Homo sapiens: one gene and its partners. The protein of the gene in region 3 interacts with the protein of the main gene of each other region in a pairwise test. Each region holds a gene or a part of one and is shown on either strand. Other genes may lie near its edges.

What was found.
Region 1: the proteins of APBB2 (region 3) and MECOM interact in binary tests that used the Homo sapiens proteins (3 or more experiments, as listed by UniProt).
Region 2: the proteins of APBB2 (region 3) and TIGD1 interact in binary tests that used the Homo sapiens proteins (3 or more experiments, as listed by UniProt).

What each region holds. Positions count from the first base shown.
Region 1 is NC_000003.12:169,660,713-169,668,094, reverse strand, and holds the start of MECOM (histone-lysine N-methyltransferase MECOM), read left to right. Parts: upstream 1-4,382; 5' UTR 4,383-4,722; coding exon 4,723-4,759; intron 4,760-6,932; exon of another isoform or gene 6,933-7,259; intron 7,260-7,382.
Region 2 is NC_000002.12:232,543,383-232,546,144, forward strand, and holds the end of TIGD1 (tigger transposable element-derived protein 1), read right to left. Parts: 3' UTR 2,335-2,762; coding exon of another isoform or gene 2,161-2,334; 3' UTR 1,521-2,160; coding exon of another isoform or gene 1,390-1,520; 3' UTR 1,199-1,389; coding exon of another isoform or gene 985-1,198; 3' UTR 501-984; downstream 1-500. Other genes in the region: CHRNG (acetylcholine receptor subunit gamma precursor), read left to right, coding at 1-7, 203-317, 985-1,198, 1,390-1,520, 2,161-2,334.
Region 3 is NC_000004.12:40,819,505-40,826,542, reverse strand, and holds part of APBB2 (amyloid beta precursor protein binding family B member 2), read left to right. Parts: intron 1-572; coding exon 573-656; intron 657-2,783; coding exon 2,784-2,899; intron 2,900-4,492; coding exon 4,493-4,672; intron 4,673-7,038. UniProt on the Homo sapiens protein: Plays a role in the maintenance of lens transparency, and may also play a role in muscle cell strength. Involved in hippocampal neurite branching and neuromuscular junction formation, as a result plays a role in spatial memory functioning.

The DNA.
Region 1 (7,382 bases), on a different chromosome or scaffold from region 3:
GGCTCCCTTTTCACTTTTACTCCGGCACGACAGCTCCGAGTACACAGGATCTTTATTTTTTATTTTAACCCCTAAATGCAACCCCTCCCGAAAACAATGCAGACAAGAAAAATCGAATAAAATCAACTCGAGACCTTTTCGCTCACTCTCAGCCTCCCTCCCCATCTTGCTCCATTCTTTCTTGTCGCCCCTGCTCCCTCCTACTTCAGCCCCCCTCCTCAACTCAAATGTATTCTGGACACTATTTAATAGATGAGTGTCTTGCAAGTAAACTCAGGCGTCCCTTGGGTCTGCATTTCATGTCTGTGACTCTCTCCCTTTCTCTCCTGTGGACTGAAAATTCGGATTTAAACCACTAGACAAGCTATTAATTTAGCTAGGCTACCCAGGGTCCTGAACCCAATTAATTTCTAATAATTATAGCCCAAGGGGGCTAGATAGATCTCCCTGCCTCTTTCTTTTATTGCCACTCCACGCCACCGAGGTCAGCGTATAATAAAGTGTGTATTTTGAAAGCGATCTCCAGAACAGTGAGTTATTGCAATGAATGAAAATTGTTTCCATTTTGGCTAATTGAGCCGGTGGCCGAAAGCTGGAGCCCTGAGACTAAATAAAGAGGACTGTTTCATTTCAACATGAAGAAACCCCTGCCTAGCTCTGGTCACCCAGCGAGAGTTTAATTTCTTAACAGCCAACCTGAAACCCAGCATTGGGTAAACAGTATTAATAATTGCATTACAATGATTAAATTAATCTTGCTGGTAGCCAGGAGAATATAGGTTGTGATTGAATAGCATGATGTAAAGTTCACTGCACAAAGACAATAGGCCTCGAAATACCTCCATAAAGAATTCAAACTTTCTTCCAAAGATACCGTGGGGCCGGTTCAATTAAAATGAGAGGAAAGGAAAACTTCCTGTTGCATGTAATGTATTGAAAATCGGTTATTTGCCATTTCTAACATTAATTTAAAAAATATAGTTGGGGAAGGGATATACTTGTCTGTGTCTTTCTCATCAATGTCCCATTTTCCTTCTAACTTCTATCTCAATCTCTTCACTTCTGCTAAACAAACAAAAACACGAAACAAAAAGTGACAGCAATAAAACAAGCAAACCCAGACAGTCTGTAAACCCATCGACTTTCCAACGAGGCACTGCTTCCAGGATGCTCGCTTCCGTGGGAGAAAACACAAGGAAACGTTGGAATGCATGCTACTGTCCCCCAAGAAAACGAATTTCAGGAGGAGAGGGAAAGGCGAGAGGTGGGGTGGGGGCGGGTAGCTAGGGCAGCTCCGCCAACTTGTTGGAGGCCTCTTTTCTCTTGGGCCAGCGACAGCTCAGACATCCCGTCAGAGGGTGTCGGGAACTCTAGGGGCTGCTGAACAGTCACCTGCTCTGGTCTCACGGCTGGGACTGGGACAGGTGGAAGTGACAGGGTCCAGGCACTTGAGAATGGGAACCGGCCGGGGCGGACGCGCAGAGGTCGCGGCGCTATCAGCCGCGAGCGCGACCGGTTGCTGCTGGGTGTTTGCTCCATCAGGTTAAACACACTTGAACTAGCAACTTAGCTCTTTATTAGCGCACACTTAGGGCAGAAAGCTAATGATAAAGAAAGAAAAAGAAAAGGAGAGAAAAGGAAAAGAAGCCCAGCTTTTAGGTTTGAAAATAAAAAACGAATGATATTGAGAATACTTTTATTTATTTAAAAGACGATGTCTTGTCTTTTCACAATGGCTTGGTCTGGGGACAGAGAAGAGTTTGCGTTTATTATTTGTTAGAAGGGGTTGGATTTTCTCGTGGCCCGAAACTGTTAGAAAGACCAGGGAGAAAGCTGGAGCGCTGAAGCGACAGCGGAGACTTCAAACCAGAAGGGGAGGGGTACTCCAGCCGCGCCTCATTCCGCCTCCCACTCCGCCAACCCCCCTTCTAGAAAAGTTTAAAAGACGGGGACCTTTAAATTTGGAGGTTCGGAGACTCCGATTCACTTCAGTCTTCCACCTCCCACCCAGTTCCCCTCACAGAACCCACCCCCTACCTCCCCAACCCTCCACGTGGTTTATAATTTCTCAGCAGCAACAGCAAGCTCAGCTTCACATGTGGGTCTTGCATTTAATCTCAGAGTTTGGTACCTTGGTCCCCTCCTTTCCTAGGAACATTTCTTGCACCCCTCTTAACCTCCCGTCTCCAAGGGAACCTAGACATAGACAGACCCCCTGGGGATGAGGTGAAAGGGATTAGCCGGAGGAGTGGAGGGGAGGATGGCGGTTCTTTTCTTTTTTCTTTTCTTCTCTTTCTTTTTTTTTTTTAAGCTACCTTGGCGGTTGGGCACCAAGGCAAGGTGCTCAGCCACCCCTGGGGTGCCTGGCAGGGAAGGTGAGGATTGGAGGGACAAGACCTAGATTTTGACAGCTGGGATCTTCAGGTGCTGCTGGTCTGTCCCCTGGCCTAGGGGATGGTCCCTAGAGAGTCTCTTACACCGATCAGAAGCAGCCTTATGAACTTCTTGCCAGTCAGCCTAGTGTTTGTCTCTCCCTAGAGATTTTGTCCCCCCTTCCAAAGCCTCTCAAGACCCATTTCTCCGTTTCCTCGGAGGACATTTGCTGGTCAGAGGGTAGGCACCTCTCCATCTAAACTGAGGGAAGCTGGTGGAGTCACATTTTGGGGGAAGTTTCAGAGTCAAAGACCTGTGTGAACCTAACAGAATGTTGGAATGGCTGGTGCTTTTGCACACACCAAATGTGTTAGCACACTCACCTTTATGCACAGGACAGCGGGAATTCTAGGTCTGGAAAAAAACCCAGGTGCCTCTTTAATTCAGAGTGGATAATAGAGTTCTCTTGTGCCCACGCGTGTGGGCACTAGAGCCTTCTCTTTTGGAAGTTGTTTTACTCCTGTTGTGAGTAATTCCCTCCTTTACCTTCCTACTTCCCTTCCTCACATTTCAACCTTATACATCTGTCTCCCTTGAGACCTGTAGCTTGGTTCTCCAGGGACCTCTATCTTACAGCCAAATGCCCCCAGAATTACACAGCTCTGGATAAAGGAAAATGGTAGGCATCCTTAACAAGGACAAATTCTTTGAACTTTGATTCTCTTGAATAAAGAGATTTGCAGGCCATTGATACCCTTTGGGGTTGAACCTTGTTATTTGCTCTCTCATGTCTGCAGTCCTAGATTTGATAATAAATACCAACAGGTACGACTGGGCATTCTCAATGATTCCCCTTTCCCTCCACAGCCTTTGCCAAACTCATGCCCAGGACCTGCTTTTCTTTTCCTTTAACTTGAACATCAAGGATGTATTGTTGCAGCACGGAGACTGAAAAGATTGTAATTTTCTTTTATGGTGTCTGGCAGGATTTGCAACAGATATTAATGGGGACATAAATAGCACATGGAAGGTATTGAACAAAACTGTTTAATGCAAGAAGGTTGTACCAAAAGAAAATCTATACCTAGTTGGGATTGATTCATACCTTGTACACAGCTAGCCCCTTTAGGAATTCCCATTTCTGAGTGGCACTTCATTGGTAAATCCTGTAATTAAAGGAAATTTCAACAATGTATTTTTTTAAGAGTGTGTGATTTTCCTCCCTACTCCTCTTTCTTTTGACCCCGAGGTTGTAGGTTTAAGCGAGTGAGTGAAAATGGCAGGCAAGCAGAGCTGCATCGGGAGGCGACCGGGGCAGCAGTGGGGGAGGCCGGAAGGTGACAGCCGACCTCTGAGAAAGCAGGAGGTCTTTGGATGTCAAATGCCAGCGCCGGCCCGGACCCGGGAATCAAGGGTGATCATTACTACTTGGTAGGGAAAGAATACTGAAATGTCCCAAGGATGGCAGCAAGCATTGGTATTACAGCTAAAATCGAGGAAAAAACCAGTTATTTATTCTGCTTACAACCCTGAAAGCGGAAGCTGCAATAGCTTCAGTAGCAGTAGCAGCGGCAGCAGTAGATTTCTCAAGTTCAGGATGATTCTCACTTTCTCCTGGATTATTAGCCGAGGGTCCAGCCCTTCTAGTTCTTTAACAGGAGAAGGGTTTTTAAAAAATGTTTTTAAAGTTTTTTTCCCCCCTGGCTTCTTGCTTCCCTCGTAGATGGTATAGAAAAATGTCTGCAATTTATGGTGGGAAAAACAATAACAATAATCATGATACAAGCTTGTTGGCGATTCTAACATGGAATCAATCCTCTGCCCAAGCCTTTTCAATTCCCCCCTCCCCTTTTTTTGGGCGAGGTGTCTGCTCCCCTCTGGCTCCCTGCGTTCGCTCCCCGCCCCCCGCCGCCCTCCCCGCGGCTCCCTTTCTCCGCCTCCTCGGCGATTGCCATCTGACAAGATCTCCAAATCAAAGTGATAAATCGCTCCAAACTTTTTTTGGCGGCGCTGAGATGTTGGAGGGGCGTCTAGCGCGCATGTGCGAAGGTGTCCAAACTGACAATGCTGGAGAGATAGCGAGTGTGGATTGAGAGAAAGGGAGAGAGGGAGGGAGAGAGAGTGAAAGAAGAAAATACAGAGAGTGAGTGTGTGGAAGAGAGAGAGAAACAGGAGAGAAACAGGAGGGAGGGAGAGAGAGAGAGAGAGAGAGAGAGAGAGAGAGAGAGAGAGAGAGAGAGAGAGAGACAGGAGAGAGAGGGAGGGAGCGAGAGGGAGAGCAAAAGAAGGAAAGGATCCAAGAAAAAAAAGCCCCAACCACACACCAGCGGCTGCAGGACTGGGCACAGCATGAGATCCAAAGGCAGGGCAAGGAAACTGGCCACAAGTAGGTGCAATATCCCTTTTCTATTGGCTTTTCCCCCTCCTCTGCCATCTTGCATATCTGTCTCTAGCGCTCCGGGAGGGAGCGCGGGCTGCCTCTTGCGCCGGGGCCCCGGGTGGAGGGCAGGCGGAGCGCAGCCCCAGCAACCTGCCGGTTCCAGTCTCTGCTCCCGGTCGCCCGCGCTCTCGCTCCCGGGTTGGGCGCCGGAGGAGCCTGGGCAGCCCTCAGTCCCGCGCACCGACCAGCTGTGGCAACCCCGGGGTGGGGGTGGGGGTGGGGGCAGCAAAGACTAGGGGTGGGAGGGAGGAGAGAGCGCGAGAGTGAGCGCGAAGGGGTGGGGTGGGGGGGAAGAGAAGAGGAGAAAGTCTCCCCCTCCCCTCCCCTTCCCCCCAGGCGGGGGAGAGTTGCCTCTGGCCAACCAGCTAGTCCCGGGTGTGGGAGGAGGGGGGCGCGGGGGATGGGGGGCCGGCAGGAGAAGGGAGCCTTTTCGAGCCTCGGTTTGTTTCTGGGGTTTGGGTAGGGTAGGCGGCTCAGAGGGAGCCACAGTGGCGGCGGCGGCGGGCGGCTGTGGTGGACTTGGGAAAAGTTGCGAGGCGGCCGCTGGAAGTTGCGCGGGCGGGCGGGTGGACTGCGCCGAGCCGCGGCTGCGGTAGTGGGCGCTGTGCGCTCGGCCATGCTCTCCGGCGCGGCGCTGCGCGGCGGGAGGACTGCGGCGGGGAGTAGGGGACACCAAGGTGGGGGCTGTGATCGCGGGGTGGGGGCGGGGGCACGGGCAGAGCAGAGCTACCGGCTCCGCACAGCCACGCGCAGGTGGGGAGGAAAGAGGCCCAGCGAGCGCTCGGACGTGGGGAGAGAAGAGGCCCAGCGAGCGCTCGGAGAGCCGGGAGTGGAGGGCACACAGCCAGCGGCGGCAGCCTAGGAGCAGGAGGCAGAGAGGGCGCGCTGCGACCCGCGCACCTCGGGCTTGCTGGGCGCCGAGCAAACCCCAGGGGGCGGGCTGCCAGAGCGTTGGGCCGCGGAGAGGGCGCAGCGCAGCCTCCGGCGCTTCGTCTGGGTGCAGCCTGGGTCCAGGGTCAATAACCCTCCCCGGCGCCCCCTGCCTGCCCGGCGCGGAGCGGCCTTGGTCTGGCGGGATGTGGGCTAAGGGGTTTGGGGAGGGGGCGGTGGGAGTCCCATCCCCCACTCTTACAGCAAAAGTGTTGGATGACTCGCCTGGCTTTGCCGGCGGGGCCCACACTTTCCCACACGGTGTGATGCTCCGCCAGGACTGTAGACGACAGGACTGCGTTTGTCCAAATGCTTCTACTTCGAGTTGAAGGGGACTCAGGGACACTGAGCCCCGGAGCGGCTGGGAGCGCTCTTCCTTGAGGTGTCAATAGGCGGGGCTGGAGCTGCCTCGGGAGTGGACAGGCCGCGGTTCTCTCTCCCACACTCGCACTCGCCGAAAACAAAACTCTCTAATTGTGTTGTTTACGGAACGCAGAAATGAGAGATCGGAGATGGGTGGGATGCTTCTCCCCAGTGAAATCCCAGTCTCCCCCCGCGCGACCCTCGCACATTAGAACCAAATACGGTAGGTATCGTATCCACGCCTCCTTGCTCACTGCGTCCCTGCAGCAGCCCGGGAAGTCGGCGGCACCTCAGCAGGCTCGGCTTCGCGGGCATTGGAGTCGGCGGTGTAGCCCCGCGAGATGCTGTCATCCCAGGCGCCTTTCCAGTGCTTTGTGCAGTCCTCACCCAAGCACTCGTACACTCCCCGATACATTTCCTTTCCCCTGGGTCTGAGAAATCAACCTAAATATAGGGCTCTTTGGGTCATCAGTCCATCTGTTTCTCTTTTGGGTGTTGTTCTTTACACTCGCTGCTACAGTGTCAAAGGGCGCCGGTGGAACTGTTTTCCCTGTTTGCTTTTAAATGAGGCCGATGTCTTTATTTTCATCTGAAGGGAAATAAATGTACATATACTTGAGGTTTGCGGGCTTCGATTTGGACTAAAGGTTGGGAGAGAGAGAGAGTGTGTGTGTGGGGGGGGGAGTTGGCGGGAGTGGGATGGTGGGTGGGGGTGGGTAGCCCTTTTCAACCATGCCTAAGTTGTGAAGTGAAAGCTTAAGGCTTCGCGCCGCAACTCACTGCCCGATAACTTCTGAAGTGAAAGCAGAACACAAAACCCTTCGAATTTTCTTGAGCAACTTTTTCAACTATTTTAATTGCCAAGCAAGACATACGATGCCGTCTTAAAATATTCCCGCACGCACAGTCCACTCAGCATCCAGAAACTGAGCCTCGTTTCCGATCTGATGATACTTGTCATTCAACTGGTGGGAGACCCATTTATTTTGTCCCCAGGGTCTCTAAGGATGCCGCTGCCGCTTTCTGATAGCTAGATCTCAACTCTTACAAACTTTTACTGAGCCTCAGATTCCCGCTTGCACTACTCCAGCTGTTGCTGCCGCAGCTGCCTTTCCCAGACAGAAGCGCTGCGTTGCAATTCTTCAGTTACAATCTGGGTAATAAAGGAAATCATATTAAAACTACAGATTTTTGTATTTTAAAGCGCGATTTCCTTCCCCCGAGTAGCGCGTGGCGGAGATGGTTGGTGACCCCTGCGGTGCAATCATCCAACGAA
Region 2 (2,762 bases), on a different chromosome or scaffold from region 3:
TCAGCAAGTAAGGCTGGTCTTCATGTCCACCCGCCTATGCCACTCTCCCTTCTTGGGAGCATGATGGCCTCCTGCATTGCCCTCTTGCCCTCCATCCACCCCCCCCATCCTCAATTCAGGAGGCCTGAGGGGGGGCAGCCACTAAGCGTGGGGGTGGCATCATGGTATGGGCTGCCAGCTCCTGCCCACCCCACCCTGACAGGTACCTGACCTTCCTCCTGGTGGTGACCATCCTCATTGTCGTGAATGCTGTGGTTGTGCTCAATGTCTCCTTGCGGTCTCCACACACACACTCCATGGCCCGAGGGGTCCGCAAGGCAAGGACCCTCCCTGCCCACTTCAACATCCCGCTGCCCACTCCCCTACGCCTCCCTCTCGCACGCCCCGGCAGTACTCACCTGTGGCATTCCACAGCACACCCATCCTGGGCGTATCTGGACGCATGGACCAAAATCGATTACAGTAATACAGGAATGAAATTGCTTCCTAGGTGCCCGGGATATTACAAATGTTAATGTATTTCATCTTCATAAAACCCATATCACCTCCAATTACAGATGAGGACGTTGAGGCGCAGAGAGGTTAAGTAACCTGCCCAAGGAAGTGCACTACAAAGTCGAAAAAGCAGGAGTCTGCCAGGGCAGTCTGATTCCAGTCTGTGTGATCTGTAGCCCACCTGCAGCCTTCAGCTTGGGCCCTTGTTGCACATGCAGATTCCCAGGCCTGTCCCAGGCATTCTAGGCCAGAATAGCATGAGGGCTGGGGGCAGGAATCTGTGTTTATAACAAGTGCCCTGGTGATTCTGATGTGCACTGAAGTTTGGGGACCCAGGCTCGTGTCCAGTATAGAAAGCTTTACCAAGGCCACGTCACTGCCCCGGTATGCTGCCTCCATGGTCCCTAGCAGCACAAGCCCTTCACGCCAACCTCTGGCTTCTGCTCTGAAGCTCGGCCTGCTGCCCTAGTGAAGCCACCCCCTCTCTAGGTGTTCCTGAGGCTCTTGCCCCAGCTGCTGAGGATGCACGTTCGCCCGCTGGCCCCGGCAGCTGTGCAGGACACCCAGTCCCGGCTACAGAATGGCTCCTCGGGATGGTCGATCACAACTGGGGAGGAGGTGGCCCTCTGCCTGCCTCGCAGTGAACTCCTCTTCCAGCAGTGGCAGCGGCAAGGGCTGGTGGCGGCAGCGCTGGAGAAGCTAGGTGAGACACACCAGGTGTGCCTGGGGACAGTCCTCCCCTGGGACCCCAGCTGGGGAGCCAGGCACAGCAGATGAGTGCTGGAGAAGTGCCCAGGTCAGGGAGAGAGGAGCTGGGGTCCCTAAGGAGAGGCCATCTTCTCTGCCTGTTTCTCCTCCATTCTACTCCCAAACCTTACCCTTTCTCTTTATCAGAGAAAGGCCCGGAGTTAGGGCTGAGCCAGTTCTGTGGCAGCCTGAAGCAGGCTGCCCCAGCCATCCAGGCCTGTGTGGAAGCCTGCAACCTCATTGCCTGTGCCCGGCACCAGCAGAGTCACTTTGACAATGTAAGCTGAGTCAGGGTGGGGTGGAGGTGGAGTGAGTACCTGGGCTTGGAACCGTGATAGAGACAGGATGAGTGGGGTTGCCAAGATAGGGCAGTGGGATGGAAAAACATGAGGCCGGGTGCAGTGGGTCACACCTGTAATCCCAGTACTTTGGGAGGCCGAGGCGAGTGGATCACCTGAGGTCAGGAGTTTGAGACCAGCCTGGCCAACATGGCAAAACCCTATCTCTACCAAAAATACCAAAAATACCAAAAATTAGCTGGGTGTGGTGGCGGGCACCTGTATTCCCAGCTACTCAGGAGGCTGAGGCAGGAGAATTGCTTGAACCTGGGAGGCGGAGGTTGCAGTGAGCCAAGCCAAGATCGCACCACTGCACTCTGGCCTGGGTGAAAGAGTGAGACGTGAGACTCCGTCTCAAAAAAAAAAAAAAGGAAAGAAAGAAAGAAAAAGGAACAGGGGCAGGGGGGGCACCTCAGGGCCAGGGGGCCATGGAATTAGCCACCAGTTGGGACCCGGACATAGGTAAGAAGGGCCCCAGGAAATGGAGACATGGGCCTGCTGGAAGCCCAAGGATGAGAACAGGACCCAGGGAAGACCTGGTGCCGCCGCTGGTTATCCCACACCTGCCTCCCACCCTCAGGGGAATGAGGAGTGGTTCCTGGTGGGCCGAGTGCTGGACCGCGTCTGCTTCCTGGCCATGCTCTCGCTCTTCATCTGTGGCACAGCTGGCATCTTCCTCATGGCCCACTACAACCGGGTGCCGGCCCTGCCATTCCCTGGAGATCCACGCCCCTACCTGCCCTCACCAGACTGAGCCAACCAACCACTGTGGGGCATGTGGGAGTCACACACGTGGGTCACACTGAGTCTTATCAGCCACGTTCTCCTACTGAGGTCCTAAGTGTGCTCTTTGGGAAGTGCCCTTCAGGACTGTGTGAGCCAAACAGCCCTGAGAAAAGCTGGGGAAACAGTCTGAGCTGGAGTCCGAGAGTGGTTGGGGGTGGGCCGTGGCTAGTGTCCTGCTGCAGTCAGCACACACGTGGGATTGGCTAGCTCATCCTGGCACCAGCCACCCCTCCACTCAGTGCACTCCCCTCACTTAGGCAAAGCATTATTCATTCCCATCAGTCTGAAGCCCGAAGGACTGTTTTGTATAATACCTTCGGACTTGGGACTGGCTCCCCTTTTACAAGTTCTCCCTGAAAGAGGGCAGTCACAAGAGGTGTGAAGAGTAGCAGCCGA
Region 3 (7,038 bases):
ATGGTGAAACCCTGTCTCTACTAAAATACAAAAAATTAGCCAGGTATGGCAGCATGCACCTGTAGAATTGCTAGAACCCAGGAGATGGAGGTTGCAGCGAGCCAAGATCGCACCACTGCACTCCAGCCTGGGCAACAGAGCGAGACTCTTGTCTCTAAAAAAAAAAAAACGTGGGTTGATTACTGGGGGAACTCAGTTATCTTCCTATGTCTCTGATTGTGCCCTTTGAGGTTACATTTTCTCTGGGCATCAACCACACCTAATTAAATAGGACACCAAAAGCTGCTACTTTACTTAATATACATCAAAGAGACAGTAGCAGCTTTAACACATAGATGCCACTTCCTGCTTTCACATGCATTCCTATCTTGAAAGTTGAACAGGATTTTAACAGAGCCCCAATATCTGGAGTAATGCTGCTCTTGTAGAATAGTTGTTACATTTACATCCAGAAACATAGGGCGTTATGGCACAGGGCGTGTCCTGAGCATTCAGATGATGCAGAGCCACGGCTGTTGTGTACATGTGTGTTGGAACCACTGAGAAAGATGTGTTGCTTTTGTTCCCTGTAGTAGATTTTCCAACACCAAAGACTGAGCTGGTCCAGAAGTTCCACGTGCAGTACTTGGGCATGTTACCTGTAGACAAACCAGTCGGTATGTGAAATGTTTATTGTCTTTCCACTTTGCAAGTGTGCGGGAGCTCACAGGAGGCGTTCGCCCTCCGAGGAGGGTGAGGTCTGCTGTTTACTCTCACGCCTTGTCTTGAATCAAACTGTCACACTGTCACCTGCCAGAGAACATAAACGGTCCTGATCAAAAGATGAGTAGAGGGACAGGCCCCGCTGCTTTGACCTGTCATCCCCAGCATGCAGGACTTTAGCAATACAGACGTGGATTTCTTGTTTACCCAGTAGTCCAGAGCTGTGTGACTCAGGGCCGTGGAAGAGCTCCGCTGCTCTGAAACGAGGCCTCCATCTCTGAGGCCAGGGCACCTGCTTCGTGTCTTGTCAGCTGGCGGGCCAGGAGAAAGGACTGTGGAGGCTTCATGCTGTCAAGGAGTGACACAGTAGTGGCACACACAGCATTCAGCTCACATGCCAGGGGCAGAGTGTAGTTGCTGGGCTATACCAAGCCAAAAAGAGACTGGGAGATGAAGCCTTCACCAGGGCTAAAAAAGGCTGTGGAGAAATCGCAAGCTACATATACTGCCAAGGGGGCTGTAAGATGGTGCAGCTGCTTTGGAAAACAGTCTGGCATTCTTCAGAAGGTGAAACATAGTTACTTTAGACCCAGCAACTCAGTTCCTAGGCGTAGACCCAAGAGAAGTGAAAACGTTTGTGCATGCAAAAACGTGTATGCAAATGTTCACAGCAGAATTATTGATGAGAGTCAAAAAGCGAAACAACCTGAATGTCCTGACAAATCAACTGACAATTAGATAAATAAGATGTGATACTTCCATACAGTGGAATTTTATTTGGCAATAAAAAGGAATGAAGGACTGAAGTGCGCTGTAGCGTGGATGAAGCCTGAAAACATGCTATGAGGGAAGTCAGTCCCAAAAGACTGCATACTGTGTGATTACGTTCATATGAAACGCCCAAAATAGGCAGAGCTCTAGCGTCAGAAAGTAGGTAAGGGTTGCCTTGGTCTAGGGGTCTGGGGAGTGGGGGAAAAATGCAGAATGACCCCTACCAGGCACGGGGTTTCTCTTTGGGGTGATGAAACTGTTCTAAAATTGATTATGGTAGGTCTAGCATGGTGGCTCACACCTGTAATCTCAGCACTTTGGGAAGCCAAGGCAGGTGGATTGCTTGAGCCCAGAAGTTCAAGACCAGCCCAGGCAACATGGCAAAACCTCATCTCTACAAAAAAAATTCAAAAAATTAGCTGGGCATGGTGGCATGTACCTGTAGTCCCAGCTACTCCAGAGGCCGAGGTGGGAGGATCATCTGAGCCTGGGAGGCTGAGGCTACAGTGAGCCGTGATTGTACCACTGCACTCCAGCCTGGGTGACAGAGCAACACCCTGTCTCAAAAAAAAATTGATGATGGTGATGGGTGCGCTCTGTGAATGTACTAAAATCCACTGGATTGCACACTTTACGTGAGTGAATTGCATGTGAATGATACCTCAATAAAGCTGTCACTCCCACCCCTATCCCCCAGAAAAACTGTGGAAACAGCTGGCAAAAGGGCCCTACTCAATGGGGGGATCCACTGTAAAGGTGCCATCAAGAGACAGTGAGGGTGGAGAGAGGCTGAAGGGCCATGGTCTGCATAGGTAGACAGCGTCTAAGGCACCAGGTCCCCGGAGCTTCTCCTGACTCTCCTCTCCTACTGAAAAGGCTGTTATTTCTTTTTTTTCTTTTTCTTTTTTTGTTTTTTGAGACAGAGTCTCACTGATACTTGCCCAGGCTGGAGTGCAGTGGTGCGATCTCAGCTCACTGCAGCCTCCGCCTCCTGGGTTCAAGCAAGCATGTCCAGCTAATTTTTGTATTTTTAGTAGAGACAGGGTTTCACCGTGTTGGCCAGGCTGGTCTCGAACTCCTGACCTCAAATGATCCTGGCTCAGCCTCCCAAAGTGCTGAGATTACAGGCGTGAGCCACTACGCCCGGCCAGAAGCTGGTATTTCATTCCTGTTGAGCAAACATGAGAATGAAGTGTCCTGTCTATTAAAAAAAGATCAGTCTGGGCGTAGCTGTTATTGGTGATTTGGGCCCACATTTGAGTGTGGTAAGTGGCTTTAGGACACTTTAAATTATCCTTTTCTGTCCCCAGGAATGGATATTTTGAACAGTGCCATAGAAAATCTTATGACCTCATCCAACAAGGAGGACTGGCTGTCAGTGAACATGAACGTGGCTGATGCCACTGTGACTGTCATCAGTGAAAAGGTGAGAAGGAATCTTCGATGACATTGGTGTGTCTTATACAGTGAGTATAAGATACAGTGGTTTTCTGTGGAACTTAGGAACATAGTCAAGGCCGGAGTTGTGCATCCTTGTGATTAAGATGGCCTACATTTGAAAGATTTGGCCCTTTGTCTGGGTCTAAATCTGTGCATACCTCTGTTTTCCTGTGGCCTGAGAAACTTCTCTTCTGGTGCTTCTGATTCTGTCTTCCTCATGTGCCCCAGAGAGAAATTGTTTGCTAGAGGTGAGTGTGTGACGCTAGTAGTCGCTCACTCTCAGGGCGCCAGTATTGCCTGGGCTGTGTGATCTGGGGATGAAAAGCAGAAGATGCTTCCATTTGGGAGAGTCCTGTGACTATCAGTAGCAGAAGGAGCTATTGGTTGTCTTGAGAAGAGGCCACATTAGCCTCAGCCCAAATTATCTCAGTTTCGTGGTTGAAGAAATTGAAGCACAGAGAGGCTAAGTCATTTGCCCAGCATCACACAGTTGGAAGCAATGGAATCAGGACTTAAATCCAGGCAACCTGGCCCAGACTTGTGCCCACTTTTCTATTCTGCCTCTGTGAAGCACCTGCCAGGGAAAGACCACCAGTCATCAGCCTGCCCCACAGCTGCCCGGTTCACCCTGGAGAGAGGAGCAGGGTGCTCACTGCCTGCCTCCAGCTGGCCACACTGAGCTCTCCTCACCTCTTCAAGTAGGTCCCGCCCTTCCCCACACCAGCATCATCGCAAGCACTGCACCCTCCATGCTCCACCCTCTGCCTACCCGACCCTTACCCAGATCACCACCACAGCCTCCTTCCTCCTGAGAAAACTTCCCGACCTCTCACACTAGTGTACTTTGCTCATTAAACACTCCCAAGGCACTAGAGTGAATATTTAATTAGTCAAGATGTTAATGATCCAAAAGTCAACATTTTGGATGTGTTTATTAATTCAAAACTTGCATATGGTTCTTGCAAAGGATGTGGTGTTCATCCCTATGAGAAAGAATTCTGAACATTTCTTTACGCTGCCTCATGTGGATCCCAGATGGACACCAGTTTGCAAGAGAGAAAAGAAAAAAACAATTTGACAACTTTTTGTTGATTTGGCAGCTTTTTGTTTTATATGGTTTTAGATGGAAATGTGATTCAGTGTGCTGTTTAGTTTGGGTAAGAATCACTGGACGAAGAAAGATACCGTGAATCCCTTTTTTCTGGTGCTCTGGGGGTTTACTTGGCCAAATGGGTTTTGGGCCACCAGGTGTCCTGTATTTGGGCTAGATGTAAGAAGTATGGACGGCACTGTCCCTCCCCACAGTGAACTCACAGCCACGTAGCATAATGGAGAATGGGACCCACATCACACCCCATGACAGCAGTGTAGTTCAGAGCAAGAATGACCTCCAGAACAGGGTAGCCATGCAGTGATGGCCTCTTCAGACATTTGGGCAAGGTTCCGCCTTTCGAGAAAAACACAGGTCCTTTCTGAATTCGGCCTGGCTATACTTTCTGAATGCCAGTTCCTATGTGCTGCCACTCTTAAGCTTGATCCTGGGATCTCCTGATTGGATGCCGCATAATGTCTCTTGCAGAATGAAGAGGAAGTCTTAGTGGAATGTCGTGTGCGATTCCTGTCCTTCATGGGTGTTGGGAAGGACGTCCACACATTTGCCTTCATCATGGACACGGGGAACCAGCGCTTTGAGTGCCACGTTTTCTGGTGCGAGCCTAATGCTGGTAACGTGTCTGAGGCGGTGCAGGCCGCCTGCATGGTGAGTTATCCCGGTACAGGCTGTTGAGCCCTCCCGCCTCTGCTCATCTCTAATATGCCATACATTATAGCAGAATCACTCACGGAAATGAAAAAAGTCGAATCCCTAAAGTAATGCTTTACTTTATAACGCCGTCATTCCTAGGGCCAGAATCAGTTATGATAAACAGATTACATCTCCAAAGGCCAGAACTCCTGAAAGAAGTGGGGCCAGATAGAGGCTCCGATGAGTTTCATAACCACCACCTTGACGACGGTCAATCCTTGATCCCAAATCAATTTCATGTGTGAAATGTTGGTCGTGTATGAGTTGGTACTGTTTGGGTTCAATTCAGTACTTTAAAAATCAATACATTGAATGACTTTTGTTTCCAGTGATTGGTTTCTGTACACCGTTCTTATATATTTTATTTATATCTGTTAACTCAGTCCTTCCGACAACTCTGTTAGGTAGTTGTTAGTTCTGTTTTATTTATGAGAAAATAGAGACTTTAGGGAAGTTAGAGAATGGGCCTCAGGGCTTGTCGGTAAGTGACAGAGCCGAGCCTGGATTCAGCCCCAAGCTGCCAGGTGACAAAGTCAGAGCTCTTTATACCACATGGATACTTGGAAACAAACAAGAATCCCTCATTATTCCTTCAGCATGTGTCTTTGTGCCCCTCTTATGCCAGACACTGCAAAAGTTCTAATAAAAATGAGGGAACTGGGCCGGGGGTGGTGGCTTACGCCTGTAATCCCAACACTCTGGGAGGCTGAGGCAGGCGGATCACTTGAGGTCAGAAGTTCAAGACCAGCCTGACCAAATGGAGAAGCCCTGTCTCTACTAAAAATACAAAATTAGCCAGCGTGGTGGCGCATCCCTGTAATCCCAGCTACTCGGGAGGCTGAGGCAGGAGAATCACTTGAACCTGAGAGGCAGAGGTTGCAGTGAACCGAGATCGCGTCATTGCACTCCAGCCTGGGCAACAAGAGGGAAACCCATCTCAAAAAAAAATGAGGGAGCTATATGAGTGTGGGCACCAAAGCCTGTGGGCAGGTGTGTTCCAGCAGCAGCAGGTTGGGTGCTGGGCCCGAGTGGAAGGAGGTGCGGTCCAGATCATGGCGGGCTTATGATGATGGCGTGTGGGGGCCTGATTTTCTTCAGCAAGGATTGCTAAACTGGGGATTGAATTGATTGTATTTAGATTATTTATTTATTTATTTATTGAGATGAAGTTTTGCTTTTGTTGCCCAGGCTGGAGTGCAATGGCGCGATCTCAGCTCACTGCAACCTTCGCCTCCTGGGTTTAAGTGATTCTCTTGCCTCAGCCTCCCAAATAGCTGGGATTACAGGCACCTGCCACCACGCCTGGCTAATTTTTTATATTTTTAGTAGAGATGGGGCTTCATCATGTTGGCCAGGCTGGTCTCAAACTCCTGACCTCAGGTAATCCACCCGCCTCAGCCTCCCAAGTGCTGGGATTACCGGCATGAGCCACCGCACCCAGCCTGTATTTAGATTTTAGACGAGTATCCAGCAAAAAAAGAAGACAACCAAGTAGAGGATAGGTTGGAGGAACAAGGCTGAGGTGGCGATCAGCCAGGAGCCCAGTTACCTTCTGCAGATGGGAGAGAGGAGGAGCGTCCACGCTAGGAGAGCAGCGTTGGGAACAAACAGGAGCAGAGGCTTTGAGAAGCACCGAGCTGCCTGGCTGGGGGAGAACTGCTGCATGTGAAGCCCCTGGGCTTCATTTAATTCAGCCTCGCACTTACGGGCTGGAATCTGGGGCATTCAGCATGACTGAGATACAGTCCTTGCATTGTAGAGCTCAGGTATAGTGGGGGAGACACAGAAACCTAAACTCTGTTACAGTGTAGAAAGTGCTGTAAATAAAAGTATGAGGATCTTCACTTTCAGCCGGGCGTGGTGGCACATGCCTGTAGTCCCAGCTTCTGAGGAGGCTAAGGTGGGAGGATGGCTCAAACCCAGGAGGTCGAGGTGCAGTGAGCTACGATGGCACCACTGTAGTCCAGCCTGGGTGACAGAGCGAGACCCTGTCTCAAAAAAATAAATAAGAAAAATAAGTATGAGACTGTGCTGGATTGAGAAGTAACTGGGAAGAAAAAGAAGTGGAGGCCCTAAAAGCAGATAACTTACAAAGTTTGCCAGTGAGGGGGAGCTTGAAGGGCAGCATTGGAGGGTTTGTTCATGTGTTTATTTCAGGACAGGAGAGGCCTGCCCCTTTTTTATTCTTTATTTTTATTTTATTTTATTTTTTTTAAGAGATGGGATCTTGCTATATTCCCCAGGTTGGTCTTGAACTCCTCCCTGGAACGGCAGGGGAGCACCACCATGCCCAGCTAGGTTTTCTTTTGTGGAAAATGGAG